4 linked regions of the Homo sapiens genome follow. The protein of the gene in region 3 interacts with the protein of the main gene of each other region in a pairwise test. Each region holds a gene or a part of one and is shown on either strand. Other genes may lie near its edges. The genes, in order: TACC1, RGN, THRA and SYAP1.

The links.
Region 1: the proteins of THRA (region 3) and TACC1 interact in binary tests that used the Homo sapiens proteins (3 or more experiments, as listed by UniProt).
Region 2: the proteins of THRA (region 3) and RGN interact in a two-hybrid assay, tested with the Homo sapiens proteins (one study listed by BioGRID).
Region 4: the proteins of THRA (region 3) and SYAP1 interact in binary tests that used the Homo sapiens proteins (3 or more experiments, as listed by UniProt).

What each region holds. Positions count from the first base shown.
Region 1 is NC_000008.11:38,818,214-38,825,617, forward strand, and holds part of TACC1 (transforming acidic coiled-coil-containing protein 1), read left to right. Parts: intron 1-1,308; coding exon 1,309-2,422; intron 2,423-5,776; coding exon of another isoform or gene 5,777-5,812; intron 5,813-7,094; coding exon 7,095-7,155; intron 7,156-7,404. UniProt on the Homo sapiens protein: Involved in transcription regulation induced by nuclear receptors, including in T3 thyroid hormone and all-trans retinoic acid pathways. Might promote the nuclear localization of the receptors.
Region 2 is NC_000023.11:47,081,124-47,088,527, reverse strand, and holds part of RGN (regucalcin), read right to left. Parts: intron 7,399-7,404; 5' UTR 7,384-7,398; coding exon 7,221-7,383; intron 4,111-7,220; coding exon 3,928-4,110; intron 1-3,927. UniProt on the Homo sapiens protein: Gluconolactonase with low activity towards other sugar lactones, including gulonolactone and galactonolactone. Can also hydrolyze diisopropyl phosphorofluoridate and phenylacetate (in vitro). Calcium-binding protein.
Region 3 is NC_000017.11:40,079,658-40,087,061, reverse strand, and holds part of THRA (thyroid hormone receptor alpha), read right to left. Parts: intron 3,228-7,404; coding exon 3,080-3,227; intron 2,453-3,079; coding exon 2,247-2,452; intron 356-2,246; coding exon 209-355; intron 1-208.
Region 4 is NC_000023.11:16,714,505-16,722,848, reverse strand, and holds the start of SYAP1 (synapse-associated protein 1), read right to left. Parts: upstream 3,238-8,344; 5' UTR 3,125-3,237; coding exon 2,950-3,124; intron 1-2,949.

The sequences.
Region 1 (7,404 bases), on a different chromosome or scaffold from region 3:
TAACAGAGACACTGTGTCAAGAAAAACAAAAATAAAAACTATAGCTATGATATTCCAGTGGTACTTGACTCTGATCCTGGATTAGGATTAGGAAGTAGGATTAGAGGGTCATCTTTTAATTTCCTTTAAAATCATGAGATATTATAACCAATTCACTGAGTTTTTCTGTGCTACTCTTGTTTCAGATATCTACGTTAGGAAATCACTTTTTGCTTTAACGAAATTACCTCATTCACACCTTCCTAATATTTGCAGCACTTATCCTAGTAAGACCACAATTAAAAAGGATTTTTATTTTTCACAAGTGATTTAGAGAATTCCTGGTCCGACTTAGAGACAGAGGTTCTAAAGAAAAAATAACTTTATTGTTTTACAATTTGTGTCTTAGTAAAATAAGGGCTATTTGTTTTAAAGCCATTTCCATATCTGGTTTTTCAAATTAGCTTTCTTATTTGGTTCTTTTAGTTTTTAGGTCTACAGAGAGATGATTCTGAGCTGGTCACAGTAGATTTTTTAAATTTATTTTTGAAACAGTCTTTTTAAATTCTGTTCTGTGGATACATGGCTTTTTTTTTTTCTTCTTTTTTTTTTCTTTGAGACAGAGTCTAGGCTGGAATGCAGTGGCGCAATCTCGGCTCACTGCAGCCTCCATCTCCCGGGTTCAAGTGATTCTCCTGCCTCAGCCTCCTGAGTGACTGGGACTACAGGCGTGTGCCACCATGTCTAGCTAATTTTTGTATTTTTAGTAGAGATGGGGTTTCACCATGTTGGCCAGGATGGTCTCAATCTCTTGACCTCATGATGTGCCCGTCTTGGCCTCCCAAGATACTTATGTTTTTAACATTCAAAGATTCAGATCTGTTCACTGCATAAAGTTCTGACCCTGAAGCTGTCAGGCTGTGCTTAGGAACTGTCTCAGCACCAATCTGCCTCCCTGCACCATAGCTGTTGGTTTCTAAATACTCCTCCAGACCAGTTTTACCCTACAGAATGTTAACATCACATAATAATACATTGCAGCAGACTCTTGCTCTATTTATCCTTTTTCTAAATAGCTCTTTTGGTGTACTTACTATTCGTATCACTTGGATAATGCACATACACAACTTGGGATAGGAAAATTCATTTTAGGGTGTTGTGCCAGCTCTTCTCTTTCAGGCTGTGCTGCCATCCTTCCTGAACTTTAGAGATGCTTAATAAAAGCAAAGAGGGAAGAACTTGCTATTTGTTTATATGAATTCAGGTAAGAGAGGATACTTACCAGTGACAGATAATTCTTTAATAGATGGTTTTTGTGTTTCATTTTAGAATCACAAGAAGCTGATGAACAGCTTGTAGCAGAAGTGGTTGAAAAATGTTCATCTAAGACTTGTTCTAAACCTTCAGAAAATGAAGTGCCACAGCAGGCCATTGACTCTCACTCAGTCAAGAATTTCAGAGAAGAACCTGAACATGATTTTAGCAAAATTTCCATCGTGAGGCCATTTTCAATAGAAACGAAGGATTCCACGGATATCTCGGCAGTCCTCGGAACAAAAGCAGCTCATGGCTGTGTAACTGCAGTCTCAGGCAAGGCTCTGCCTTCCAGCCCGCCAGACGCCCTCCAGGACGAGGCGATGACAGAAGGCAGCATGGGGGTCACCCTCGAGGCCTCCGCAGAAGCTGATCTAAAAGCTGGCAACTCCTGTCCAGAGCTTGTGCCCAGCAGAAGAAGCAAGCTGAGAAAGCCCAAGCCTGTCCCCCTGAGGAAGAAAGCAATTGGAGGAGAGTTCTCAGACACCAACGCTGCTGTGGAGGGCACACCTCTCCCCAAGGCATCCTATCACTTCAGTCCTGAAGAGTTGGATGAGAACACAAGTCCTTTGCTAGGAGATGCCAGGTTCCAGAAGTCTCCCCCTGACCTTAAAGAAACTCCCGGCACTCTCAGTAGTGACACCAACGACTCAGGGGTTGAGCTGGGGGAGGAGTCGAGGAGCTCACCTCTCAAGCTTGAGTTTGATTTCACAGAAGATACAGGAAACATAGAGGCCAGGAAAGCCCTTCCAAGGAAGCTTGGCAGGAAACTGGGTAGCACACTGACTCCCAAGATACAAAAAGATGGCATCAGTAAGTCAGCAGGTTTAGAACAGCCTACAGACCCAGTGGCACGAGACGGGCCTCTCTCCCAAACATCTTCCAAGCCAGATCCTAGTCAGTGGGAAAGCCCCAGCTTCAACCCCTTTGGGAGCCACTCTGTTCTGCAGAACTCCCCACCCCTCTCTTCTGAGGGCTCCTACCACTTTGACCCAGATAACTTTGACGAATCCATGGATCCCTTTAAACCAACTACGACCTTAACAAGCAGTGACTTTTGTTCTCCCACTGGTAATCACGTTAATGAAATCTTAGAATCACCCAAGAAGGCAAAGTCGCGTTTAATAACGTGAGTGACAGTGGGCGCTGGGTGTCGTGCTCTGTGTCTTGTCTGTTGAGTTTGGCAGCCAGCTACTTTTGGCTTTGGTGAACTGAATTTACCTTTGAGGTGCACCGAGGTTCATACAAAGCTTATAATGTTATCCTGCAGTCTTCACTGTTTGGCTTAACTGTTGTGTGGAATCAGAAATACCAGAGGTTTCCTTTTCAGATTGTTGTCTTTTTTCTGAATCCTTAGCTTAATCAGCTAAGCTCTTTTCCCTTGACCCTAGAGACTTTTTTATGTTTAAAAAAAATAGACCAGTCACGGTGGCTCACACCTGTAATCCCAGCACTTTGGGAGGCCGAGGCAGGTGGATCACTTGAGGTCCAGAGTTTGAGACCAGTCTGACCAACATGGTGAAACCTGTCTCTACTAAAAATGCAAAAATTAGCTGGGCGTGGTGGTGCACACCTGTAGTCCCAGCCACCCGGGAGGCTGAGACATGAGAATTGCTTGAACCCAGGAGGCAGAGGTTGCAGTGAGCCGAGATCACGCCGCTGCTCTCCAGCCTGGGTGACAGCAAGACTCCATCTCAAAAAAAAAAAAAGAATGGCATGAGATAGACAGGTAGAGATTTGATGGTTTTCAGAAATCCTGGCTGGACTGTTAGGAGTCGTGTTATAGACAATTCAAATGTCACTGCTGGCCACCGTCTTCATACTCTATGGATAAAACAGAAATTCCAGTCCTGTAACTTACCTCTGTAGCGTCAATAACGTGGGAAATGATCCAAAAGGGTCTTGTAGAAAGAAGACTTTTTACATAAACAGAAAGCTGTGATTTTTGTGGGAAACAAACCTACCACTAAAATTGATGAGAATTCTTGTCTCCATGTGTAATTTCTGGCTCATCAGCCAGGAGGTAAAATTTCAATAAGAATCAAGAATATTTTAAATGATCAGTTAAAACTGAGTAAATTAGTTGGTTTAGTCAATCCCCCATCTCTCCTGGGAAATTATCTGACTTTTGCAAGGTCCTTGGTGTTTTCAGTGTAATTACCTAAGGTCCTATTCCATATCAAGTTTCAGTTTAACTTTGCTACAGGATTACTTTATCACAAAACTTGAGTAGATGATAATACAATCATACATCACTTAGCCACAGGGTAAGCCACAGGGAAATGCATCCTTAGGTGATTTTGTTGTGTGAACATCGTCAAGTGAACTTACTCAAACCTAGGTGGTGAAACCTACTACACACCTAGGCTATATGGTACAGCCTGTTACTCCTAGGCTACAACCCTGTACAGCACATTATTGTACTGAATAGGTGCTAGGTGTGGTGGCTTACACCTGTAATCCCAACACTTTGGGAGGCCAAGGTGGGAGGATCCCTTGAGGCCAGGAGTTCAAGACCAGCCTGGGCAACATAGTGAGACACCCCCCCACACACACCGATTCCCTGTCTCTTAAAAAAATTTTTTTTAATTAGCTGGGAGTGGTGGTGCATGCCTGTAGACCCAGCTACTCAGGAGGTTGAGGCAGGAGGATTGCTTGAGCCCAGGAGGTTGAGGTTGCTGTGAGCCATGATTATGCCATTGTACTCCAGCCTGGCTGGCAGAGCAAGACCCTGTCTTTAAAAAAAAAAAAAAAAAAAAACTACTATAGGCAGTGTAACACAATGGTAAGTATTTGTGTATCTAAACATATCTAAGCATAGAAAAGGTACAGTAAAAATATAGTATAAAAGATAAAAAATAATACACCTGTATAGGGCCCTTACCATGAATGGAGCTTGCAGAACTGGAAGTTGCTCTGAGTGAGTCAGTGAGTGGTGAGTGAATGAGAAGGCCTTGGACATTACTGTACACTACTGTAGCTTCTATAAACACGGTACACTTCAGCTATGCTAAATTTATTTAAGTTTTTTTCCTTCAATAATAGATTAAGTTTAGCTTACTGTAACTTTTACTTTATCAACTTTTAAATTTTTTAAGAAGTTTTGACTCTTGTAATAAAACTTAGCTTAAAACACAAACACATGGTACAGCTATACAAAAATATTTTCTTTATATACCTATTCCATAAGTTTTCTTTGTGTAAAATTATTTATTTGTTTACTTTTTAAAATTTTTGTTAAAAACTAAGACACAGACACACACATTACCTAGGCCTACCCATTACCTAGGCCTACTCAGGATCGTCAGGACATCACTAGACAATAGTTTTTCAGTTCCATTATAACCCTACGGGACCACCATCGTATGCATGACTGAAATGTCATTACATGGCACCTGACTGTATATCCTTTTGTGGCCCTAAAAAGGGCCACATTTTACTAAAAAGTTTGAGTAAAATGTAGATATAAAGAAGGACCAATGAGATGCAGGATGAAATATGGGAGTATGAGAAGCACTGTGTTTGTACTTGTCACTGTAGATCAGTTGGGGAAATGCTTCTCAGCATTGCTATGACTTAAAGAAAAACTCCAGATATCATGGTGACTTACAGCAGAAAGGAAGACGCCCAGAGGTTTAAAGAGCAGAAGGATCAACTTCAGTACCAAGAAAGTAGAGAGATATAGGAACCAGTTCCTCAGCAGCCCCGGAATGGCTAAGGGGAGTGAAATGTCATTAGTAGCTCTCGATCTGTTCTTTGATTATATATAAGCAGTTAAATGGTTGTTGGAAAATATTATTGATTGGGTGCCCTCTTTTGTGGCTTTTAAGGTTGGTTACTCCTCTCTAGACAGCACTTAGGGTATGTACTGGGCACGTCACTGCCTAGGTACTTCCTCCCCTAAATGTGGGATGCTTCTGCATACTGAAGTTGATAAGGAGTCATTTGTGAGTCTTTGAGTTGCATGCAACCAATGCATTAAATAAGATGAAATCTGGGCCAAAGAAAGGGTAATTTATTCTACACTTTATATTCGGCAGCAAGAAGCACCGTCTCTCGAGTCCTGCCACCCTCACCCAGTAGCCTTTTTCCCCTATTCTGTTTTTGTTGAATGAACTTCTTGATCTAATACACTTAATAGGGCTTTTTTTAAGGCCTTATGCAATCAAAAATCTTGTCGTCTTGTTCTTTTTAGAAGAAAGGAGTGCTAGACCTCTTGGAAGTTTATTTTTCATCTGTAAATTTGAATTTGTGGCATTTCTGAGTGTTTCTACCAGTCTCCTTTGTAGTTGAGGTCTGTTCATCATTCACTCACTGGTGATAACATTCATGAATACGACATTTTTAATTTGTATCTCACCTCATAGAAAGAATTGTGCAGCTTTTACATCTGCCAGACTAGAGTTGAATATTCCAGTCTTTACATGATTTTTTTCTCCATCTGTCTGTCTCTTTCCTGTCTCTAATTTTGTTGGTGCATCAGGACTACTGAACAAGTGAAATTTCTCTGTTTTCTGTTGTAAGTACTCCTGCTGTTTCTTTAGTCCCTGGGACCGTTGGCAGTTTCCTCTCTCCCCTCCCCCAGCCATCTCTCCATAGCATGTTTGCTTCTAATTCTGAGTTTGATCTTCTGATGATTTTTTTGCATTTCATCAGTCACTTCATGAGTCAGCTTAGCCTTGCAGTTGTCCATACCTAAGGGAGTGGGGCTTGGCCTTTACACCTTAGGTGCTAGAGCTTGCACTCCCTGGCTTGGCAGGTGTCACGTGGCGCTTTGACAATACCAAAAGCTGGCTTGGCCCCAAGATCATCACAGCAGTGGTTTGAGGGACTGTTCTGCTATTTAATATTGGAAATCATTGGCTTTTTTGGTAGCATAAAGCTACTGGCTTGGAACAGTTAATAAATTTTACTGAGTCAGCTCAACTTGAGTTTGGTGGCAGAGGGTAGCACTCAGTAAGAAGATTAGGGAAAGAAGATCATGAACTAGTGATTATGCACATTCCGGTAACTTATGTGCTTGTCTTTGTATTTTTTCTCACAAAAGAAAAAAAGTTGCAAATAATTTTTTCTCTTTTTTTGGTCACAGTGGTGTTTTTCCTGGAAATTCTAAGTTTATTAGAACAGAATCTGAATTAGTCCTGTGATCACAAGTTGTGTGCTAATCTACAAATAACAGATGGTTCAAGCTTCCCCAGTTTCAGGCTTTGTGCAGCGTGTGACATTCATCTTCCATCTTACTACTTAATAGGAATGGTAACAGTTTACTCACATATTTTTACTTTTATACTTTTTATTGATGACAGTTCTTCTCTGTGAGCACACAAGTCTAACTGGAACTGTTTTATGAGACGTCTATGGCTTTTAGTGCAATAAAGAATTTTTAAAGAATTTGGTCCAGCGTGATGATTTTTCTAATGAATGTCAAAGCCAAGCGAGTGAGGCTCAGAGGAACTGAATGTCTCCAGCTGCTAAGGCTCTACTGTCTGCAAAGCTTTTGGTGGCGTGTAATTAAAAACCATAGACATCAGAGTGCTACTGTTTGACAACTCATAGAAGCAAGCTGAGGGGGTCTTTTCAGAGAATGAGCCCCGCTTGTAGGTCTTTGCTTACCCCGTCTCTCTGGAGAAAACTCAGAGGCATAAAAGGTGTCCCTGCCTCTCTCCTGCGGCGATGTATGATTTGTGTGGTGCTGTATGCTTTGGCTTCTATCCGCACACACTGCTGTCTGCTCCATTTCATACCTTGACAATTGTCAGTGTGATTGCAAACTGGCTTGTTTGTGTTTCTTCTCTTTCCAGGAGTGGCTGTAAGGTGAAGAAGCATGAAACTCAGTCTCTCGCCCTGGATGCATGTTCTCGGGTGAGTCTGTGCCCATCTCCAGAATGTCTCTGAGACCAGGGGTCCTCCAGTGGGAGTTTGCATCCCCCTGGCGGGTGGTTCAAAAGGACTTTCCAATGGGTACCTGAGTACTCAGCTTTAAGAAGCCAATTTCCAGATCCTTACTGTCCCTGAAGAGAAGGCCCCTGAAGACAAGGGAACCCTTTCACAATGACTCTTTTTTTTTTTTGGTAAAATTCCCACTTTAAATGCTACAAAGATGCATCACCA
Region 2 (7,404 bases), on a different chromosome or scaffold from region 3:
GATGCCGAAAATGAGATGGCACAGATGCCAGAGACAATGTAGATGGGAAGCCTGAATAGCAAGCAAGACAGGGTCGATCCTCCCTCCCTGGGGAGAAGGATGTTCCCTCGGCAGTTTCCTGCTCTAGGGCAGTTGGGTTTATTTCATGACTCTCCCTGCACATTATCTGCCTCACAGAAAAAGAGGCCTGGAACATGCATGTGAATCTCCTGCTGCTTGGAAAGCCTCTTCCTTGGTGGATAGAATAATCTAGAGCCCTGGCTTCATTATCTAGTAACAAGCATAGACAGGTCAGATCTTGGGTGTGGTGATATATTCAGGGTGCGATCACCTTGAGAATCCATCTAGACTATAAGATAACCCCACCTTTTTCTGGGCCTGGGGCACCTCCGAGCACCTGCCAAGAGCTATGACCTCTCTTGAGAAAGAGTCTCAGGTGCTTCTGGCAGATGCATAGCACTAGTATATACCTAACAGGTATATACTAGTGTACTAGTGTTATGCATCTGCCAGAATACTACAGTATTATATTATAATTATATATAATATAATATTATATATTAATATAATATATATAGTTGTATTATATATTATATAATATATAATTATATTTATATATAATATGATTATATTATATATGCTTATATAATTATAATACTATATTATAATATATAATTTAAAATTATATATGATAATACATAAAGTAAAACTATATATTATTATAAGTATAATATTATAGTATTGGTATTAGTACTATAGAATACTATAGTAATACCTAATAGTTACACCTACAATGACACCTGCAATTTTAAGAGGTCTCCTGATGGCCCAGAGACTCCATGCTTAGAATGGAGGCCTTGGAGGCCATCTTTATTTTTGTCTCACAGAGTGCCTCAGAACTGTAAACTTTGTAAGAAAAATATGGAGCTCTTCATGCATTTGCATGTCATCCTTGTGCAGAGGCCATGCTAATCTTCTCTCTATCGTTCCAACTTTAGTAGATGTGCTGCTGAAGCGAGCACAGAACTGTCAACTTCTACTTAAAAGAAGGAGAGAAAATCAATTTCACCAGGAGGTGAAATATCCAATCACATATCTTTATCTTGCAGAAATTACTGCAGAAGGGCTTCCAACAGATTCTCATCTTTAATCTTTCAACCTGTCCCGGACCATATCTGTGGTTGTATAAAGTCCAGGAAGATGGGAAGCAGTCTACAGTCAGCTGCTCTGACCTCTCCTGCCTTCCATATTGAAGTTGCACAGGGCCAGGACAGCAGGGCCAACAATGTGAGGCGGCAGTGTGGGAAGGTGGGAATAGTAGAGATGGAGAATCAACTTCGGCTAACTCAGAAGGTTATTATGATGAGAAATATATGTGAAGTGCAGTATCTAATTTAAAACTGTAGATAAAATTCTTTTAAACCTGCATGTAAGTCATTCTGCAACCATCATAGTAAACTTTGGTTCAAGAAAGAATCATCAATGAATGTAAAACTTAAGGAAGAAATTTTGATGAGGACCAGGATATTTGTGTGGACTTAGAGTATCTCCCCATGTTGTAGCCAGCCTCCAAGATAGCCCCTAATGATTCCCACCTTTCAGCATTCTCACCCTTGGATAGTTCCCTCTGTCATTGTCTGTGTGACCAATAGCATATGGCATAAGTGATGGTATGTCACTTCCGATTGGTTAAAGACTGTAGCTTGCATCTTGGATCTTGGGTGCATGCGTTCTCTCTCTCTTTCTCTCTCTCTCTCTCTCTCTCTCTCTCTCTCTCTCTCTCTCTCTCTCTCCTGTTATCACTGGTTCTAGGGGCAGCCATGTCCTGAGCAGCCCTGTGGAGAGACCCACCAGCTAAGGAACTGAAGCCTCCTGCCAACCCCTATGTGAATGAGCTTGGAAGTGGATCTTTCAGACCTCTGCAGAGAATCCAGCCTTTTCCGAGGCTGCAGCCCCTGTGGAAAGCTTGACTACAGTCTTATGAGATAGCCTGAACTGGATCCATCCAGCTAAGCTGCACCCAGATTCTTGACCTTCAGAAACCATCTGAGATAATAAATATTTCTTATTTTAAGCCTCTAAGTTTCAGGGTAATTTGTTATCCAGCAATAGATAACTAACAACCCCCACAAATTGCTTATAAATTGCATTAAAAATAGTTATTCAGTAGAGAAATCTGACAGGGCCTTAACCTGGTGATCAAAATCACTAACGAGGGGACACACGGACATCGTGTACCTCCAGATGGGTTACCCTGAGAACAGAACATTATCTATGCGGTATTCCAGTCAGGAATGTATAACATCAACTTAATCACAAACAAACACTAGACAAATACTAAATAAGGAATGCCCTATTAAAAAAGGGGGAGTTGGGTAGGCCTGGCTGTATTCTTCAAAAATGGCAATGTTATAAAAAACAAACAAAAAAAGCTATGAAAATGTTCCAGTTTTAAAAAAGATCAAAGAGATATGAAAAGGAAATGCAATCCATGAGCCTAGACTGCATCCTGTGCTGGAGGGAAAAATGTGAGAAAGAACACTTTTTGTACAATTGACAAAACTGGGATTTAGATAGTATATCAGATAAAATGACTGTGTCAATGCTAAACTTCTCTAAGTTGATCACTGTAACTGTGGTCATGTAAGAATATGTCGTCTTTCTTGGGAAATTCACACTGCAGCATTTTAGGGGTAAAGGCACATAGGATATACATGCAACCTACTCTCACATGATTCTGGAGATAGGCCAGGTGCAGTGGCTCACACCTGTAATCCCAGCACTTGGGAGGAAGAGGTGTGAGGATCACTTGAGCTCAGGAGTTTGAGACCAGCCTGGGCAACATAGTGAGATCTCATCTCTATTTTTTTTTTAAATAAAGGACTCTGGAGATAAAGATGTTTAGATATATACAGACAGCAAATGATAAAGCAAATGGAACAAAATGTTAGCAATAGGTGAACCCGGGTAAAAGGTATACAAGTGTTGTTTGTACTATTCTTTTTTTTTTTGAGATGGAGTCTCGCTCTATTGCCCAGGCTGGAGTGCAGTGGTGCGACCACAGCTTACTGCAAGCTCCACCTCCCAGGTGCATGCCATTCTCCTGCCTCAGCCTCCCGAGTAGCTGGGACTACAGGCGCCCACCACGCCCGGCTAATTTTTTGTATTTTTAGTAGAGACGGGGTTTCACCGTGTTAGCCAGGATGGTCTCAAATCTCCTGACCTCGTGATCTGCCCGCCTCGGCCTTCCCAAAGTGCTGGGATTACAGGCGTGAGCCACCACGCCTGGCCTGTACTATTCTTATTTTTCTCTGTAAATTTGAAAATATTTCTGATTTAAACATCAACAACAAAACCCCTGTATTTAAAACTCATTTAAACCACCAAAATACCATACAGATTTTAGTCTCTGCTAGAGATGGAAATGCAAATGAAGATTTTATCATAGAATTTTTTTTTTGTCCTACAACTTACTCAGGCAATAATAAAAGAAGAACCCAAGATTCATTATAAATAACACTTTTGAGGTAGTGAGAACTAACTAACTTACTTACTTTCTTTCTTTCTTTTTTCGAGACCGGGTCTCACTCTGTCACCCAGGTTAGAGTGCAGTGGCACGATCTTGGCTCACTGCAGCCTCAAACTCCTGGGCTCAGATGATCCTTCCAACTCAGCCTCCTGAGTAGCTGGGAACACAGATGCATGCCACCAGGCCCAGCTAATTTTTTGTATTTTTGGTAGAGACAGGGTTTCACTATGTTGCCCAGGCAGTTATCGAACTCCTGGGCTCATGCGACCTACTCGCCTTGGCTCCCAAAGTGCTGGATTACAGGCGGGAGCCACCACCCTGGTCAGTAGTGAGAACTTTGTATGTCAAAGTATTTCCTCCAAGGCTCAGTAATAAGTAGGTGTTAAGAGAAATCTTACCAGCAAAGTACCTCCCGGCGGGATCCACCTTCCCATCATTGAAGCGATTGTTTTTCTTGTCGTTATCCACCGTGGCCAAGACAACTGCTGATTGTTCTTTCCAGTTCAAAGCACAGAACTTTGTTCCAATGGTGGCAACATAGCCTCCCGACTGGCGAAGAGCCACGGAGCTGACTGGGGCATCTGTAGAGGTAAAGCAACAGTTAAAAAACAGTACCAGTTTAGTGGCTGAGGCCACTGAGATCACTGTGCTACCTGGCATCTCTTAGAGCGGGAGCCCAGCTCTCGTGACAATGGGAGCGCTCTCTTCCTTCTGTTGAGTAGGGAAGGCTATGTAACCTAGTACATTTGTTGAGTATGAATTTTGTGTGCTGATCTGGGCAGCAATAGATAGAAATGTGAAAAAAACCCAACTCCTCTGGAAGCTCCCAGTCTTGTGGGAAAAGCAGAGAAGTGAAAGCCCAGTGGCCATGATATGGGGCAGGTGCCACATCCAGTTCAGAGGAGGAGTTTCTAATCTAGGGGCACCAGGACAGTCATCACAGAGCGAGTGATGCCCCATTTTGCCAGAAAATGCTCCAGAAAATTCAGAGACACAAACCGAGTTTATTTACAGCAACTAGGTTTTGTGACATCTCTCTCCCTCTCCAATCCAGGATTTGCATTTTTTTTTTTGTTTGTTTTGTTTGAGACAGAGTTTTGCTCTTGTTTCCCAGGCTGGAGTGCAATGGTGCAATCTCAACTCACTGCAACCTCTGCCTCCTGGGTTCAAGCAATTCTCCTGCCTCAGCCTCCTGAGTAGCTGGGATTACAGGCATGCACCACGCCTAGCTAATTTTTATTTGTATTTTTAGTAGAGATGGGGTTTCACCATGTTGGCCAGGCTGATTTCGAACTCCTGACCTCAGGTGATCCACCCGCCTTGGCCTCACAAAGTGTTGGGATATTAGGCGTGAGCCACCACGCCAGGCCCAGGATTCGTCTTTTCTAAGGGGCCCTATTTTATATGTATTTAATTGCAAATTGTTTCTCAGATCCTTTTTTGGAAGTAAGCATGGTAAAAAATAATAAACAGATAGGAATGTAGATGCAGAGATAGTACAATCACATCTCTTCATTATATTACTACATTTTATGTTTTTAAATTTTAGGTTTTCTTCATTTAATATTTTTCCATGTATAAGAAAACTTTTTTTTTTTTTGAGATGGAGTCTTGCTCTGTTGCCCAGGCTGGAGTGCAGTGTCGTGATCTTGACTCACTGCAACCTCCGCCTCCCAGGTTCAAAGGATTCTCCTGCCTCAGCCTCCCTAGTAGCTGGGACTACAGGCTGTGCTACCATGCCTGGCTAATTTTTGTATTTTTAGTAGAGACACGGTTTCACCATGATGGTCAGGCTGGTCTTGAACTCCTGGCCTCAAGTGATCCACCCACCTCAGCCTCCCAAAAGTGTTGAGATTACAGGCATGAGCTACTGCACCCGGCCAAGAAAGCTTTTTTTTTAAATTTATTTTATTTTTTTAAGTGGAGAGATTGATTGCTGTGGTGAATGGTCACAGGAAATAAATTTATCAGAATAGATTTTGAAAGCATTTCCTAAGCACCCCTTCAGTGTAAGATAATGGGAGCTTCAGGAGCCACCCTTAGCTCAAAGCCCTGCTCACACTTTGATTGGAGCCATCAAGGGTCCCAAGGAATGTGTAGGACACACTCTCATTGGGGATCCCAACCTGCAGCCTGAGACTTCTCTTGGTAGCTCTCTAAGCTACTGCTGACACCACAGCTTTTTCCATGGGTTGGGGGCGGGTGGTGGTGGGGGCGGGCTTTTCAGATCACAGGTTGGCATGTGTGTCTGCTGCAAAAGAGACTAGAAAAGGCAAGGGGACCCCATCCCCATTCTACCCTCAGAGGTCACAGTCACTTTACCACAGTCATACTTCTGGGTGAATTAAAAATTTGTTCCCTTTCATTTAAAAATAAAGAAGTTTAAGGCTGGGCGTGGTGGCCCACACCTGTAATCTCAGCACTTTGGGAGGCCAAGGCAGGAGGATTGCTTGAGCCCAAGAGTTCAAGACCAGCCTGGGCAATATAGGGAGACCCTGTCTCTACAAAAAATAAATAAAAATTAGCTAGGTGTGGTGGCACATGCCTGTGGTTCCAGCTACTCAGGAAGCTAAGGTGGGAGGATCGCTTGAGCCTGGGAGATTGAGGCTGTAGTAAGCCATGTTTGCATTATTGCACTCCAGCCTGGGTGGCAGAGCCAGACCTTGTCTCAAAAAAAAAAAAAAAAAAAAAAAAAGTTGAGGTCCCAGTTCTGGGTTGAGAAAGAATGTCCCAAGATTATAGGAATTCCTGATATTTTTTCCCATGGGCTCAGTGAAAACAAGAAACTTCTTTCTCTATCAGTAATTACATTAAGCCTATTCCCTTGGGCCATAGAAAGTGATAAATCCCTTCTTTAGAATTCGCAGGGCCATAAACGCATCACACTCAAATGCACATGAAATTCCATCATGAATTCTATTTTGTGCAGTAAACAAAGACGGTCCTGGTTGATGCTTTATACATCCAAAAGCTAGTTTTCACTTTCAAGGAAGAGAGGCACCTGTTTTTGTTTTGTTTTGTTTTGTTTGAAAATTAAGGTCTTGGCCTGACCCAAGGCAGATAACTGGGTCTTTAACTTTCCATGGTTATCTGAAGGTATTAAGGAAAGACAGGAACTAGAGTGCCCCAGCATCCAAACAAAACTGGGAATGGGCTGGGCGTGGTAGCTCACGCTTGTAATCCCAACACTTTGGGAGGTCGAAGTGGGTGGATCTCTTGAGCCCAGGAGTTTGAGACTAGCCTGGGCAACATGGTGAAACACCATCTCTACAAAAAATACAAACTAGCTGGACATAGTGGCACGCACCTGTAGTCACAGCTACTAGGGAGGCTGAGGCAGGAGGATCCCTTGAGCCCCAGGAGATCAAGGCTGCAGTGAGCCGTGATCACACCATGGCACTCCAGCCAGGGCAACACGGTGAGACCCTGTCTCAACAAAAACAAAACAAAAAATAAACAAAAACACCCCCCCCCCCAAAAAAAAACTAGGAATGTTGCCCCTCATTCAAAGAGGAAGAGGAAAGTATTGACCATCCATAATTAAACCCTGGGTCAAAGTGGGAGGATATGGAGTGGGGACAGACAGCGTGACAAGTGTAGTCAGTGTGCTTTAACAAGAAGGGTGCCGTGGTGACCGCCCCTCCCCTGGGAAAAGGTAGCTGGCTGATCTGAGTCCAGCCTTCATCCTTACCCATGGTCACTCGCTGTACTTGCTTGGTGAATGAATCCCACCGGCAAACCTTTTTTGCAGGAATGTCTACAAAGAGCAGAGAGTTGGACACTTCCTCCCATACTGGAGACTCACCACACCGGCAGTTCTCTGGCAAAACACACTCAATCTTAATGGAAGACATGGTCGCAGGGGAGATCTATTG
Region 3 (7,404 bases):
TGTCCGTGTATGTGTCTGCATGTGTGCCTGTGTGCTGGGTGTATGTGTATGCATGTGTGTGTGTGTGTCTGTGTATGTTATCTGTGTATGTTGACCTACAGGAATTGCTCCTTGTCCAGAGAACCTCAGATGAGCCTGTACTGGGTGACCGGGGGAGCAGGTTTCCCTCCAGCACAGCATCACATCTCTCCCCACTTCTGCCACTCACCTCGGAGAACATGGGCAGTTTTTTGGCAAAGTCCACCACACGGGTGATGGCCGGGGTGATGATCTTGGTAAACTCGCTGAAGGCTTCCAGGTCCACCTTGTCTCCGTCCGGCATGGAGACAATGGGTGACTGGCCAATGTCATCGGGCTAGAGAGAAAGACGGGGGTCAGCTGGGGCCGCAGACCCCTTTCAGCCTCTCACTGAGGCTCCCTGCCCACCAGGGGGAGCTCCAAGGCAGCTTGGGGAAGAGGGGCCGCCCGTGCCTGAGTCCCAGGCCCAAAGCTTTTCCTTCATCTTGAGCAGAGAATAGACCAGAACCAGAGCTCCAAGTCAGCTAATAATAACAACGGTAGTAACAGTAGTAGCAGCTATAATGACTGAATACTTAATATATGATCAGGCATCAGGCTACATGTTTTACATGTCTTATTTCATCCTGACCATAATCCTAAAAGGAATAATTATAATAATCACCATTTCACAGATGTGGAAACTGAGGCATGGGGCAGCTAAATAATAAGGTTAAAGTCATATGACCAGCAAGTGGTAGGACCAGGGTTTGAACTTGGGCAGTCTGACTCGTGACTGTTACACATCTGCTTGGAATCAGAGCCCGTGCCCTTAACAGTGTGCACTGTGCCACCCCCCGGCATGCTCCACCATGAACCAGGTGCTGGTTTTCTGCCTTCCTTCACCACGTATAGCCAACTGTCCATCTCCTCCCAAACTGATCATATTTTTTGAGAGAGGGTCTTGCTCTGTTGCCTGGGCTGGAGTGCAGCGGTGTAATCATGGCTTACTGCAGCCTCGACCTCCCAGGCTTAGGGGATCCTCCTGCCTCAGCCTCCCGAGTAGCTGGGACCACAGGCACACACCCCCATGCCCAGCTAATTTTAAAATTATTCGTAGAGAGGCCGGGAGCAGTAGCTCACACCTGTAATCCCAGCACTTTGGGAGGCCAAGGCAGGCAGATCACCTGAGGTTGCGAGTTCAGACAAGCCTGACCAACATGGAGAAACACCGTCTCTACTAAAAATACAAAATTAGCCGGGCGTGGTGGCGCACGCCTGTAATCCCAGCTATTTGGGAAGCTGAGGCAGGAGAATCGCTTGAAGCCGGGAGGTAGAGGTTGCGGTGAGCCAAGACTGTGCCACTGCACTCCAGCCTGGACAACAAGAGCGAAACTCCAACTCAAAAAAAAAAAAAAATTATTCATAGAGGGTGGGCATGGTGGCTCACATCTTGTAATCACAGCACTTTGGGAGGCCGAGGCGGGTGGATCACTTGAGGTCAGGAGTTCGAGACCAGCCTGGTCAACATGGTGAAACCCTGTCTCTACTAAAAACACAAAAATTAGCCAGGCATGGTGGCCAGTGCCTGTAATCCCAACTACTCGGGAGACGGAGGCGGGAGAATCGCTTGAACCCAGGAGGCGGAGGTTGCGGTGAGCCGAGATCGTGCCACTGCACTCTAGCCTGGGTGAGAGTGAGACTCCGTATCAAAAAAAAAAAAAATTATTCATAGAGGTGGGATCTCTGTATGTTACCCAGACTGGTCTCAAACTCCTGGGCTCAAGCGATCCTCCCACCTTGGTCTCACAAATTGCTGGGATTACAGGCATGAGCCACTGCACCTGGTCCCAAACTCATCATTTACTTAGCAACTAGCTTGACCAGGGCCTAACATAATGCCTGGCACCCAGCAGGTGCTCAAAAATACTGTGACATAACTGTATCCTTACCCTCTCCTCCCAGTCACTAAGGGCAGGAAAAAGAAGAAAGGTCGCTCCCGCTCCCTGGAAATTCGATGAGGAAGGCAAGGCCCTGTCCTCATTGAGCTCCCAGTTGGATGGAGTAGACAGTCCAGACAGCAAGGACACAAACACAAGTGTATAAAATCTGGACAGCAAAAGTGTGAAGAGTATGTATTTTGGGTTGGATTACACTAAGAAGACTTCCTGGAGGAGGCAAGACTCCGAGCTCACTCTCTTCTCCCTGCCACCTGGCTACTGCTCTCCCCATGCCCCCTTTCTCCTTACCAGGAATTTCCGCCTCTGTTTCCAATGGCTGCCCTGGGCATTGGTGCTGCGATGGGCCTCTGTGGCAATGTGGATCAGATCCCACTCTTCAGGAGTGGGCTCTGGTCGCTGCTGCAGTGATCGGATCATCTCCTCCTTCCGCCGCCGCTCCCGGTTCTGCTCAATCAGCTTACGCTTGGCCACCCGCTTCGAGTCATCTAGAACCACTGTGAACAGAGAGGCACAAGGTCTAACGCATGGCACCCTCCATCCCCTTTCCATAATGCTCCCGGAAACTACTCTTCCTAGAGTACAGGTTGGAGAAACCGAGGGCCATGGAGGCTAAATGACTTCCCAAATCACCTAGCAGTTGGGCAGCACAACCCGGATCATGATTAATCCCCGGGACCATGTCAACAACAGTTTGGGCTGATCCAGATGAATATCATGTTCTGGTCTAACGGATTATGGTGACGGTGGTTACTCGAATATCCTGCCACCCAATCCCCAGCCAATGGAAGATGCCCTGTCTCATCTAGAAGTGGGGTGCCTTCGCTGGGAGTCAAGAACAGTGTGCTAGAGTGGGTGCCCAGGAGCTCTTTCTACCAAACGACTCCCTCTCTAAGGCCCTCGAGTGTTGTAAGGCAGGTAGGCATTGGGGCCCACACAGGGATCCTGTTTCCTTTTGCGCAGGAAGGAGGACAGCAAGGACCAAGACACTGAACATTCTGACCTAGACTGGATTGCCACTCTGCCCTGTGGGCTCTGAGGGTACCCTGGAAGGAAGCTGCCCTCCCAGAACTCATCCCCACCCCAGGCCACCTGGCTCTATTCCCTCCACCTGGGCCCCTTACAGTCCATGGCCATGCCCACGGCGATGCACTTCTTGAAGCGGCACAGCTGGCACTGATTGCGGGTGATCTTGTCAATGACACAGCAGCTGTCATATTTGCAGGAATAGGTGGGATGGAGGTTCTTCTGGATTGTGCGGCGAAAGAAGCCCTGGGGTGGGGGAGATGGAGCAGGCTGTGATCATGACATGGCTTCCCCTTCCTGAACCAACCATGCAGTTTACTAGGGGTCAGGGGTGGAGAGCAAGGAAGGCAAGATCAGTGAGGGGACCTGGCATCCTCCTGACACCATGAGCCCAAGATTACTAGGCTCAAGGACCTGAGAAATATATGCCCTCAGCCCCCAGGCTGCTGAGGGGTTGGGGGTGTCTGGGTAGTGTTTGTGGCAGAGGCAGGAATGATGTCTAGAGCAGGCAGCTTTGAACCTGGGATAATGTGAGGCCTTAAGGAATAGCAGCTTTGGAAATCCAAGTCGCCGGGCGCGGTGGCGCACGCATGTAATCCCAACACTTTGGGAGGCCGAGGTGGGCAGATCAACTGAGGTCGGGAGTTCGAGACCAGCCTGACCAACATGAAGAAACCCTGTCTCTACTAAAAATAGAAAATTAGCCGGGCATGAGGTTGGGTGCAGTGGCTCATGCCTATAATCCCAGAACTTTGGGAGGCCAAGGCGGATGAATCATGAGGTCAGGAGTTCAAGATCACCCTGGCCAACATGGTGAAACCCTGTCTCTACTAAAAGTATAAAAATTGGGCGTAGGCCGGGCGCGGTGGCTTATGCCTGTAATCCCAGCACTTTGGGAGGCTGAGGCAGGCGGATCACAAGGTCAGGAGATCGAGACCATCCTGGCTAACACGGTGAAACCCTGTCTCTACTAAAAATACAAAAAAAATAGCCGGGCATGGTGGTGGGCGCTGTAGTCCCAGCTACTCGGGAGGCTGAGGCAGGAGAATGGCGTGAACCCAGGAGGTGGAGCTTGCCACGAGCCAAGATCGCGCCACTGCACTCCAGGCTGGGTGACAGAGCAAGACTCCGTATAAAAAAAAAAAAAATTACCCGGGCGTGGTGGTGGGCGCCTGTAATCCCAGCTACTCAGGAGGCTGAGGCAGAGAATTGCTTGAACCCAGGACACAGAGGTTGCAGTGAGCCAAGATCGCGCCACTGCATTCCAGCCTGGGTGACAGAATGAGACTCCATCTCAAAAAAAAAAAAAAAAAAAAAAAAAAGCATGCGATTCTATAGTGTAGCAGTTATCACATCTGCTTTACATGCAGAAGGTCCTAGGTTTGAGCCGCGGTGGAACCACGGCGGGGTCCACCCCTTGGCCGGGCGCGGTGGCTCATGCCTGTAATCCCAGCACTTTGGGAGGCCCAGGCGGGCAGACTGCCTGAAGTCAGGAGTTCAAGACCAGCCTGGCCAACATGGTGAAACCCCATCTCTACTAAAAATATAAAAATTAGCTGGGCCTGCCCCTGTAATCCCAGCTACTCGGGAGGCTGAGGCAGGAGAATCGCTTGAACCCAGGAGGTGGAGCTCGCATTGCACTCCAGCCTGGGTGACAAGAGTGAGACTTCATCTCAAAAAAGAAAAAAAAAAGAAAAAATTAGCCGGGAATGGTGGCACATGCCTGTAATCCCAGCTACTTGGGAGGCTGAGGCAGAAGAATTGCTTGAACCCAGGAAGCAGAGGTTGCGGTGAGCCAAGATTGTGCCATTGCACTCTAGTCTGGGCAACAAGAGCAAAACTCTGTCTCAAAAAAAAAAAAAAAAAAAAAAAAGGAAATCCAAGTAAAACCTCATTTTCCATTTTGCTAAATGACTTTAAAAACAACACTGACCCAAAAACCATTCTCATATATGTTGCCTGTTGTCCATGCAGGTGGAATTCATAAAACAGGGGAACCAAAAAAGTCAAGGAAAGGGACTGAGTATGAACTCTAGTAGGGGAAGAGAAAAATTTCAATTCTCTACATTGGGATTCACCTTTATTTTATTTTTTTAATTTAATTTTTTTTTTCTTTTTGAGATGAAGTTTCACTCTGTCACCCAGGCTGGAGTGCAGTGGTGTGATCTCAGCTTACTGCAACCTCCACCTCCCAGGTACAAGCAATTCTCCTGCCTCAGCCTCCCGAGTAGCTGGGACTACAGGTGCCCACCATTACGCCCGGCTAATTTTTGTATTTTTATAGAGATGGGGTTTCACCATGTTGGCCAGGCTGGTCTCGAACTCCTGACCTCAGGTGATCTGCCCACCTCGGCCTCCCAAAGTGCTGGGATTACAGGCGTGAGCCACCGCACCCAGCCTCGCCTTTATTTTAAAGGAAACACCTCAAAACTCAAGATGATTGCAATAATATGAAGAATTAGTATTTTTTCATGTTTACAATGTGTCAGTCACTTAGTAAACATAAGCCTTGCTGGCCAGGTGCAATGACTCACACCTGTAATCCCAGCACTCTGGGAGGCTGAGGCAGGCAGATCACTTGAGGCCAGGAGTTCAAGATCAAGACCAGCCTGTCCAACATAGCAAAACCCCATCTCTACTAAAAATACACAAATTGGCCAGGGGTTGTGGCGTGCACCTATAATCCCAGCTACTCTGGAGGCTGAGGTGGGAGGATTGCTTAGGATTGCTTGAGACCAGGAGGTCAAGGCTGCAGTGAGCTATGATCGCACCACTGCACTCCAACCTGGGTGACAGAGACCCCATTACAAACAAAAACAAAAACCCAAAAGATAAGCCTTGTCTTTCATGGAACATCACAGTGAACCCTCCAGACAACCCTATGAGGTAGGAACTGTTACTGCCTCCACTTTGCAGACAAGGAAACTGAAGCTTGGTGAGATGAAGCAATTTGCCCAAAGTCATGTGGCCGGTGGGCAGCAGAGTCAGAACTGGGCCTCAGGTATGGGACACCAACGTCTGAGCTCTCAGATTCCAGGGGCATTAAAATCACCAAAGGCAGCCGAGTGCGGTGGCTCACGCCTGTAATCCCAGCTCTTTGGGAGGCTGAGGTGGGTGGATCACGAGGTCAGGAGTTCAAGACCAACGTGGCCAACATCGTGAAACCTTGTCTCTACTAAAAATACAAAAAATTAGCCAGGTGAGGTGGCAGGCACCTGTAATCCCAGCTACTCAGGAGGCTGAGGCAGGACAAGTGCTTGAACCTGGGAGGCAGAGGTTGCAGTGAGCCAAGATCGCGCCACTGCACTCCAGCCTGGGTGACAGAGTGAGACTCCGTCTTGAAAAAAAAAAAAAAAAAAAAAAGTCACCAAAGGCACCTACCAAAGATACAGATTCCTGGGCCTCACTCCAGAACTACAAAATAAAACTATCCAAGGGTGGGGCCAAGGCATCTCTGTCTTTTCAGGGTGCTTCCCTGGGACTCAGATGTCCGTGAGAGTAAAAGATCCTTTCTCTATGCTACACTGTTTGTATTGCTTCCAGAAGGATTGTATTGCTTCTGCTAGGGAACTCTAAATCCCTCATGGTCTTGGTTTGGTTGACATCAAGAAAGAGAGAGAAACTTCAAGCCTTAAACTTTTTTTCCGTTTTTTTTTTTTGTTTGTTTTTTGTTTTTAAGACAGGGTCTTGTTCTGTCGCCCAGGCTGGAGTGCAATGGCTTAATCACAGCTCACAGCAGCTTCGACCTCCCAGCCTCAAGTGATCGTCCTACCTCAGCTGCCTGAGTAGCTGGGACCACAGGTGTGTGTGCACCACCATGCCTGGCTACTTTAAAAATTTTTTTGTATGGACAGGGTCTCACTATGTTGCCCAGGCTGTTCTTAAACTCCTGGGCTCAAGCAATCCTCCCACCTTGGCCTCCTAAAGTGTTTGGATTACAGGCGTGAGCTACTATACCTGGCCTTTAACATATAAATCATTCTGTTTCTTTTTTTTTTTATTTTGAGACAGAGTATCACTCTGTCGCTCTGTCACCCAGGCTGGAGTACACTGACTTAATCTCCACTCTCACTGTAACCTCCATCTCCCAAGTTCAAGAGATTCTCCTGCCTCAGCCTCCCAAGTAGGTGGGATTACAGGCGTACATCACTACACCTGGCCAATTTTGGTATTTTTAGTAGAGACAGGCTTTTACCATGTTGGCCAGGATGGTCTCAAATTCCTGACCTTACTCATTCGTTCATTTGCTCATTCATAATCCCTCCTCTGTCACTCACAAGAAAATTGCCTAACTTCTCTGAGTCTCAGTTTCTTCATCTATAAAATGGGGATAATCATTTTATCTACCTTATAGCACTGTTGGGAGAATTAAATGAGACAATTCACTTGAAGTGTTTAAAACAGTGCCACCGGGTGTGGTAAC
Region 4 (8,344 bases), on a different chromosome or scaffold from region 3:
GCATGGGGCCTTGAGGGAGGTAGGGAGGAGCTCTTAAGTGAGTTCTCCTATAAATTGTTCCTTCCTTTGGAGACAGTGACAATCGGAGGTTGTAAATTTATCAGGAGGGAGGGCCAAGAATCAGGAGACCAGGAGGTTTGGTTTTGAGTGAGGGAGTGGAATGCAGGCCTGGGTGTCCACCACTAACTGGTGAGTTGCCTGAATGTATAAATAGGTCACCAGGAACCAGGAAGTATTTAGTGTCCAGTCTTGAAGGTAGGCACTCAACAAATATATGCAGAACAAATGGGGCTCCCAGGAGATTTTTTTTTTTTTTTTTGTGAGATGCAGTCTCACTTTGTCACCTACACTGGAGTGCAGTGGCGCGATCTCGGCTCACTGCAACCTCCGCCTCCCGGGTTCAAGCGATTCTCCCGCCTCAGCCTCTTGAGTAGCTGGGATTATAGGCGCGCACCACCACGCCCAGCTAATTTTTGTATTTTTAGTAGGGACAGGGTTTCACCACGTTGGTCAGGCTGGTCTCGATCTCCTGACCTCGTGATCTGCCTGCCTTGGCCTCCCAAAGCTGCTGGGATTATAGGCGTGAGCCACCGCACCCGGCTGATATTTTATGTAGATTTCAAAAGACTTAAGAAATGAATCTACTCTGGGAGTCAGGCTCACAGATGTTTAATTCCAGTTTTCAAAACATAAATGGGTCTTCTTAAAGACAATATACTTCTTAGGATCAATATGTAGAAATAAAAAATATCTGATCATCTCTCTTGTCTCTCACAGTTTGTATATGAACTAGAACCTTTACGACTTTCTAAAATCACATAAATTTCAGAAAAGAAAGAATTCTCATTTATTCTGAAGCTTTAAATTCACAATGTGTGTGTGTTTGTGGGTACTTCCATCTAACCTCAGCTTCCGTAAATATCAAAAGAGAATCTGGTGAGCAGAAAGATGGCAGCATTAGCTCCAAAGTACACATCCATATGAAAAATGCAGTTATTAGAAAATATTCAGAGGGGCCAGGCACGGTGGCTCACGCCTGTAATCCCACCACTTTGAGGCCAAGGTGGGTGAATCACTTGAGATCAGGAGTTTGAGACCAGCCTGACCAACATGGTGAAACACTGTCTCCATTAAAAATACAAAAAAAAAAAAAATTAGCCAGGTGTGGCAGCGTGTGCCTGTAGTCCCAGCTACTCAGGAGGCTGAGGCAGGAGAATTGCTTGAACCCAGGAGGTGGAGGTTGCAATGAGCCGAGATCGTGCCATTGCACTCCAGCCTGGGCGACAGAGCAAGACTATTCTATCTGGGGGCCTTGGGCTGAGATTATACACTGTCATGGTTTGAGATTATGTCTGTTTTCCCTGTCCTTTCATCCCACAGTAAACTTTTAAACGTTAGGGCCCAGCCTGCCCAACATCGCGAAACCCCATCTCTACTAAAAATACAAAAATTAGCTGGGCGTGGTAGGGCATGCCTGTAATCCAAGCTACTGGAGAGGATAAGGTAGGAAGATCACTTGAACCCTGGAGGTGGAGGTTGCAGTGAGCCAACATCGTGCCACTGCACTCCAGCCTGGGCGACAGAGTGAGACCCTGTCTCCAGAAAAACTGTTCGGCCCTTTCTTACTCAAATATGTGTTTATCTACTCTCAGGCTGCTCTCCTCCCACATCCCTGTCTCCACCCCCATCCCCCCACCCCCATCTTTTAGTAGATTCTTCAAATGTTGCTGAACTTAGTATCTACCTTTGTTGCAGTTCTCTCACTTGTAGTGCTGGGCTGCTTTAGGGCTCACCTCCTCAAAGATGCTTTTTTGTTTTGTTTTGTTTTGTTTTTTTGAGATGGAGTCTTGCTCTGTCACCCAGGCTGGAGTGCAGTGGTGCGATCTCAGCTCACTGCAACTTCCACCTCCCCAGTTCAAGCGATTCTCCTGCCTCAGCCTCCTGAGTAGCTGGGATTACAGGTGCCCGCCACCACGCCCGGCTATTTTTTGTATTTTTAGTAGAGACGGGGTTACATCGTGTTGGCCAGGCTGGTCTCGAACTGCTGACCTCATGATCCGCCCACCTCAGCCTCTCAAAGTGCTGGGATTACAGGCCTGAGCCACCATATCCGGCCTCAAAGATGCTTTCTGTGATCACTGAAGCCCACCATGGTCTCTCCAGAAATGAGAATTACTACAGCATGTGTTTACTCCACGTCTATTATCACCTGTCCCCCAACCCCTGTAGACTGTAAACTTGGAAAGAGCACGGGCTTTAAAATGAGAAAGATCGAAGCTCAAATTCCACTTCTACCACTCACTATCAGTATAACTTTGGCCCAATAACTCTGGGCTTGTTCCCCCAACTCACTGGGGGTGTTTAACAGATGAAATGGGATATCTTTCATAAAACATCTAGTACTGCAACTTGCGTATAGCAGACAGTTGGCATTTTCTCTCCCTCCTTAAGGAAAAAGGTCTCTGTACCTAAAAAGCATTTGACCGGGGCAGACATTGACATTCAGTAACTGTCAGTTTACTTCAGACAACACGTTCTGACCTAGGGGCAAAAAATTATTTTTTCAACCAATTCAAGCTCGCCAACTATCCCCGATCTGGGGGGTGTAAATGAAGGTTTTCGAGTTGAACAAAAAAGATTCCTTGTCAAACCTGAAGACGTCGGGTCACACTGCTTGACTGCATACCTGATTCCAATGTCTGCAAACTTTGTAGACTTGTCACCAGGAACTTCAGGGACAGGACCTGACTGCTAGATGAAGCTCTGGCCTCGTCCAGATCCTCACCAATCTCTCCCGACCCGGAGAGGACTGACCGACAGACACATCTTCCTCCCCTGCCTCCCACCTCGGCCCCCTCATCCCCCAGCCAGTCGGGCCCGCGCCCCAGGGCCGTCCCAGAGGAGGAATGCGCCCCCCCCTTCCCGGTCCCAGAGCCAGGGTAGACTCACTGCCGAAGTCTTTGGCCTGGTGGAGGAGCTCCTGGTCTCCCGCTTGCTGCAGCTCCTCCTCCGCAGACTCAGCCACCGTCTCGGACGGCTGCTCGGGTGGAGCATCTCCATTGGGCTGCCCACCGCCTGCCACCGGCTGCTGCAAGCCCAACCAACTGCTCAAGCCCCGGAACATCCCGCTCGCGGGCCGCCGCCGCGGTCCCGATCCCCAGAGACCGCAGCGAGCACTGGTTGCCTTTGACTCCACTCTGCGCGACTCCCAGGGAGATGTCCGGAAGTCGGAGGAACACCGCAGCCGCCGCAGCCCCGCCTCTATGACGACTCCGCCGCGGCCGCGCAAGCGTCACTTCCGTCCAAAGGCTCCGCCCCTGGTGACGTCAGTTGTGACAACTGTTTTGTGCGCGTGGATAGGGGACAAAGAGCTTTCCCAGCGTAGCCCTGCCTTCCCTCTTTTCCTCATTCGCCAGCTTTGTAGGTGACTGACCTAGTAGGCATGTGGACGGTGTCTTTGTCACAGTCCTAGCCAGTCCCATTTTAAGATTGCCTCTAGGCAGCTTGGCTGGTGACTTAGTCTCGCCTTTTCAGGTCCCGCAGGGCTGCGTTCCCGCAGAATTGGATGTCTTTAGCCTCCTCCTGAGCCCAATTCAAAACTAACCCAAAGCCGCCAAGCCCAACAGGGAATAAGAGGACAGAATAAGGTGTTAAACAACACAATGGGATGCTGTCAGCAGAATCTAGACTATGAGAAGCCACAGGACAGACAACCTTGTTTCTTCAAATAAATTGCAAGGAAGAGAGGAGTGTGGTGGGGAACCTATAGATTAAAAAAGACTTAAGAGATGTAACACATGGCCCCTTGTGCATTTTATTAGGATCCTAATTCAGCAAACACATTGAAAAAAATAGTATGATACTTATTATAAGAACTGGAAATTTGGACACTGGGTAGTTGATAAAATTAAGGAATTGTGAAATTACAAAATTTTAATTGTGGTAAAATACACAAAATTTACCATCTTAATATGATTTACCATCTTAACCGTTTCTAAGTGTACAATTCAGTACTGTTAAGTACATTTACATTGTTGAGCAATCAATCTTCAGAACTCTTCATCTTGCAATTAAAAGAATGAAAAATAGTCCGAGTGCGGTGGCTCACGCCTGTAATCCCAGCACTTTGGAAGGCCGAGGCGGGAGGATCACAAGGTCAGGAGTTCGAGACCATCCTGGCTAACACGGTGAAACCCCGTCTCTACTGAAAATAGAAAAAAATTAGCCGGGCGTGGTGGCGGGCGCCTGTAGTCCCAGCTACTAGGGAGGCTGAGGCAGGAGAATGGCGTGAACTCGGGAGGCAGAGGTTGCAGAGTCCATTCTCAAAAAAAAAAAAAAAAGAAAAAAGAAAAATAGAACTTCATCTTGCAAAACTGAAACTACCTATGAAACAACTCCCCATTCCTGTCCTTGTCATCCCCCTCCTCCCCCCATTCTACTTCTTGTCTCTATGGATCTGACTAGATACCTTAATATAAGTGGAATCATTCAGTATTTGTCTGTAACTGGCTTCTTTCACTTAGTATAATGTCCTCAAGGCTGTGTCAATTTCTTTTTAAGAGTGAATAGTATTCCCTTGTATGTATACACCACGTTTTGTTTATCCATCTGTTTATCCACCGCACATATTGAGATTTTACCAAAGAAATGATACCATATCTGGGCCAGGCGCAGTGGCTCACGCCTGTAATCCCAGCGCTTTGGGAGACCGAGATGGGTGGATCACCTGAGGTTAGGAGTTTGAGACTAGCCTGACCAACATGGTGAAACCCCGTTTGTACTAAAAATACAAAAAATTAGCTGGGTGTGCTGGCGGGCGCCTGTAATCCCAGCTACTCGAGAGGCCGAGGCAGGAGAATCACTTGAACTCAGGAGGCGGAGGTTGCAGTGAGCTGAGATCCTGCCATTGCCCTCCAGCCTGGATGACAAGAGCAAAACTCCGTCTCAAAAAAAAAAAAAAGAAAAAGAAAAAAAGAAATGATGCCACGTCTGGAATTTGCTTCAAATTAATACAGGATGGGGGTGGGGGGAATGGGGGGGGATATAGATGAAACAAGCCTGGCCATGGGTTGAAGCTGGGTAGTTAAACATTTGTCTTTTTTATATTTTTAACTTTTCCCACAATAACATGTAAAACTAACAAAAAACTAGTGATGTGCATAACTACCCCTTCAGAGCAGGGAGTTCATGGACACATTTCCCAAGCACAGTCTTCAGTCATTAATTGTGGAAGGACATCCATGATTCCTTGCTCCCCAACTATTTTGAGAAGAGGAGGACAGTTCCGGTGACCTGAGGGAATACATGAGGAATTGATTACAACTCTGATTTCCCTGCTGTCCAGTTTTCCAGCCTGACTTATATTTATATTTTATTCAGGTCCAGGATTTTAGGTTATCAAGCCCAACCTGTTTTTTTCTTTCCCCCAAACAGCTGAGATTTAAACAATTCACCTGTTTAAAGTGTACAATTCAATGGTATATATTTTTGGTGTATTACACTATTAATATTTTAAATTGAAGTAAAAATAAATTTTTTTTAGTGTACAGTTCAGTGGCATTGATGACATTCCAGCCTGTTTTTAGAGTCCAAGTATTGATTCAGCTTTGAAGTCAGGAGATGTCTTAGGATCAATGCCTTTCTAGGCTTTATTAAGTCAATGAGAACCTGAAAGTGGTTGAGACTTTCGGGAATAGGATATTTGCTTCAAGTATGATTGAACAGAGCCTGGAATTTGAGTGAGAAGCCTAGGATGGGCTTCTAATTCCACCATCTAGTAGGTGAATAAACTTGACTTTTTTTTTTTTTTTAGACGGAGTCTCACTCTGTCTTGCCCAGGCTGAAGTGCAGTGGCACAATCTCGACTCACTGTATCCTCTGCCTCCTGGGTTCAAGCAATTCTCCTGCCTCAGCCTCCCAAATAGCTGGAATTACAGGCACCTGCCACCACACCTGGCTAATTTTGTATTTTTAGTAGAGACGGGGTTTCACCATGTTGGCCAGGCTGGTCTCGAACTCCTGATCTCAGGTGATCCACCCACCTTGGCCTCCCAAAGTGCTGGGATTACAGGAGTGAGCCACCGCACCCGGCCTAAACTTGACGTTTTACTCATCCTTTTGCCCCTCAAGTTCCCTCACTTGCAAAAGAAGTATAGTGCTGGTCCTTCCCACAGCAGAGATAGGGCCCAGCCCTTTCAGCCTTACTCTGCTTTATCTTAAGGTACACTCAAAATCGTGGTGAACACTGTGGTCACCAAGGGATAGACAGTTTTACAACTCTTCTGAAAGGTAGAATTCTTAAAAATAAGAGATTAGGCTGGGCACAGTGGCTCATGCCTGTAATCCCAGCACTTTGTGAGGCCGAGGTGGGAGGATTGCTTGAGTCTAGAAGTTTGAGACCAGCCTGGGCAACATAACGAGACCCTGTCTATACAAAAAATAAAAAATGAGCTGGGTGTAGTGGCTTGCACCTGTCGTCTCAGCTACTCAGGAGGCTGAGGCAGGGGGATTGCTTGAGCCTGGGAGCTGGAGGCTGCAGTGAGCTGTGATCGTGCCACTGCACTCCAGCCTGGGTGATAGAGCGAGACCCCGACTGAAAAAAAGAAAAAAAAAAAAGATTACAAAACAAGAACATAAGCAATCAACTTAATGATGGGCTTCATTTTCATTTTAAAAAAATCATCTGGCCAGGCACGGTGGCTCATGCCTGTAATCCCAGAACTTTGAGAGGCCGAGGCAGGTGGATCACCTGAGGTCAGGAGTTCGAGACCAGCCTGGCCAACATGGTAAAACCCTGTCTCTACTAAAAATACAAAAATTAGTCGGGCGTGGTGGTGGGCGCCTGTAATCCCAGCTACTCAGGAGGCTGAGGCAGGAGAATCACTTGAACCCGGGAGGTGGAGGTTGCAGTGAGCTGGGATCATGCCATTGCACTCCAGCCTGGGCGACAAGAATGAATCCCCACCTCAAAAAAAAAAAAAAAAAATCATCTTGTGCGGATTCAGCAAGATGTTATGCTGGTGGTGGGCCATGAACTGACACTTGTTGAATGAGGATACATCCTTATCCCACACAATTCAGTCAATCCACACCCTGTTATCAAATTTGTTTTCCAGCTCATTATTTTTCCCATTTGAGATTAATAATACAATAGTTATTATAATGAGCCCTTTGTATATACAGATTATCTTTTATCCATTAGCCTCATGGATGAATAGAATAGGACAATTGGATCAGGCCTCACATCCTGTGGTGGAGTCTGGCTGTGCATTGATGTCCTGGCTTTGCCACTCATATTAACTAACGTACCCTTGGTCAAGACATTTCACATCTCTGAACCTCAGGTCCCTCATTCTAAAAAGGGGATCATAACAACTGTCCTGGTTCTAAAAAGATAATGAAAGACGGAACTGTGGAAGGAAACCTTACATATGCGGCAGGTATTAAGTATTAGCACCCATACCAACCCATTTCACAAACATTCTTTCCCCTGAGCCCTCTGGAAGACTTGTTTATGCCTCTAGCCTTTTGACAAGGTGGTTCCTTGTCCCTCCCCTGGACCCCCCAACACCCATGGAGACCTGGATCTCCCCCAAGGCTACCCTGCTGAGTGAAGCGTCTGCTTATTTTCCCAGAAATTGACATCATTGTTCCAAGTTCCTTACTGCTTCCTCCACAACACTGTTCTTTCATCCTTGGTGGGGAGAAACTCCATTGTGTTTATTTTATTTTATTTTTTGAGATGGAGTTTCGCTCTTGTCGCCCAGGCTGGAGTGCAATGGCGCGATCTGGGCTCACTGCAACCTCCACCTCCCGGGTTCAAGAGATTCTCCTGCTTCAGCCTCCTGAGTAGCTGGGACTACAGGCACCCGCCACCGCGGCCGGCTAATTTTTTGTATTTTTAGCAGAGACGGGGTTTCACCGTGTTAACCAGGATGGTCTCGATCTCCTGATCTCGTGATCCACCCACCTCGGCCTCCCAAAGTGCTGGGATTACAGGGGTGAGCCACCATGCCTGGTCGTGTTTATTTTTTTAAATTAATTAATTGATTTTTTTTTTGAGACAAGGTCTCAGTCTGTCGTCCAGGCTGGAGTGCAGTGGCACGGTCATAGCTCATTGCAGCCTTGACCTCCTGGGCTCAGGCGACCTTCCTGCTTCAGCCTCCCCTGGGATGCATGCCAGCACACGTGATAATTTTTGTATTTTTTGTAGAGACAGGATTTTGCCATGTTGTCCAGGTAAGTCACCAACTCCTGGACTCAAACTATCTGCCTGCCTCAGCCTCTCAAAGTGCTGGGATTACAGGGGTGTGCCATGGCGCCAGGCCTCCATTGTGTCTTGAAA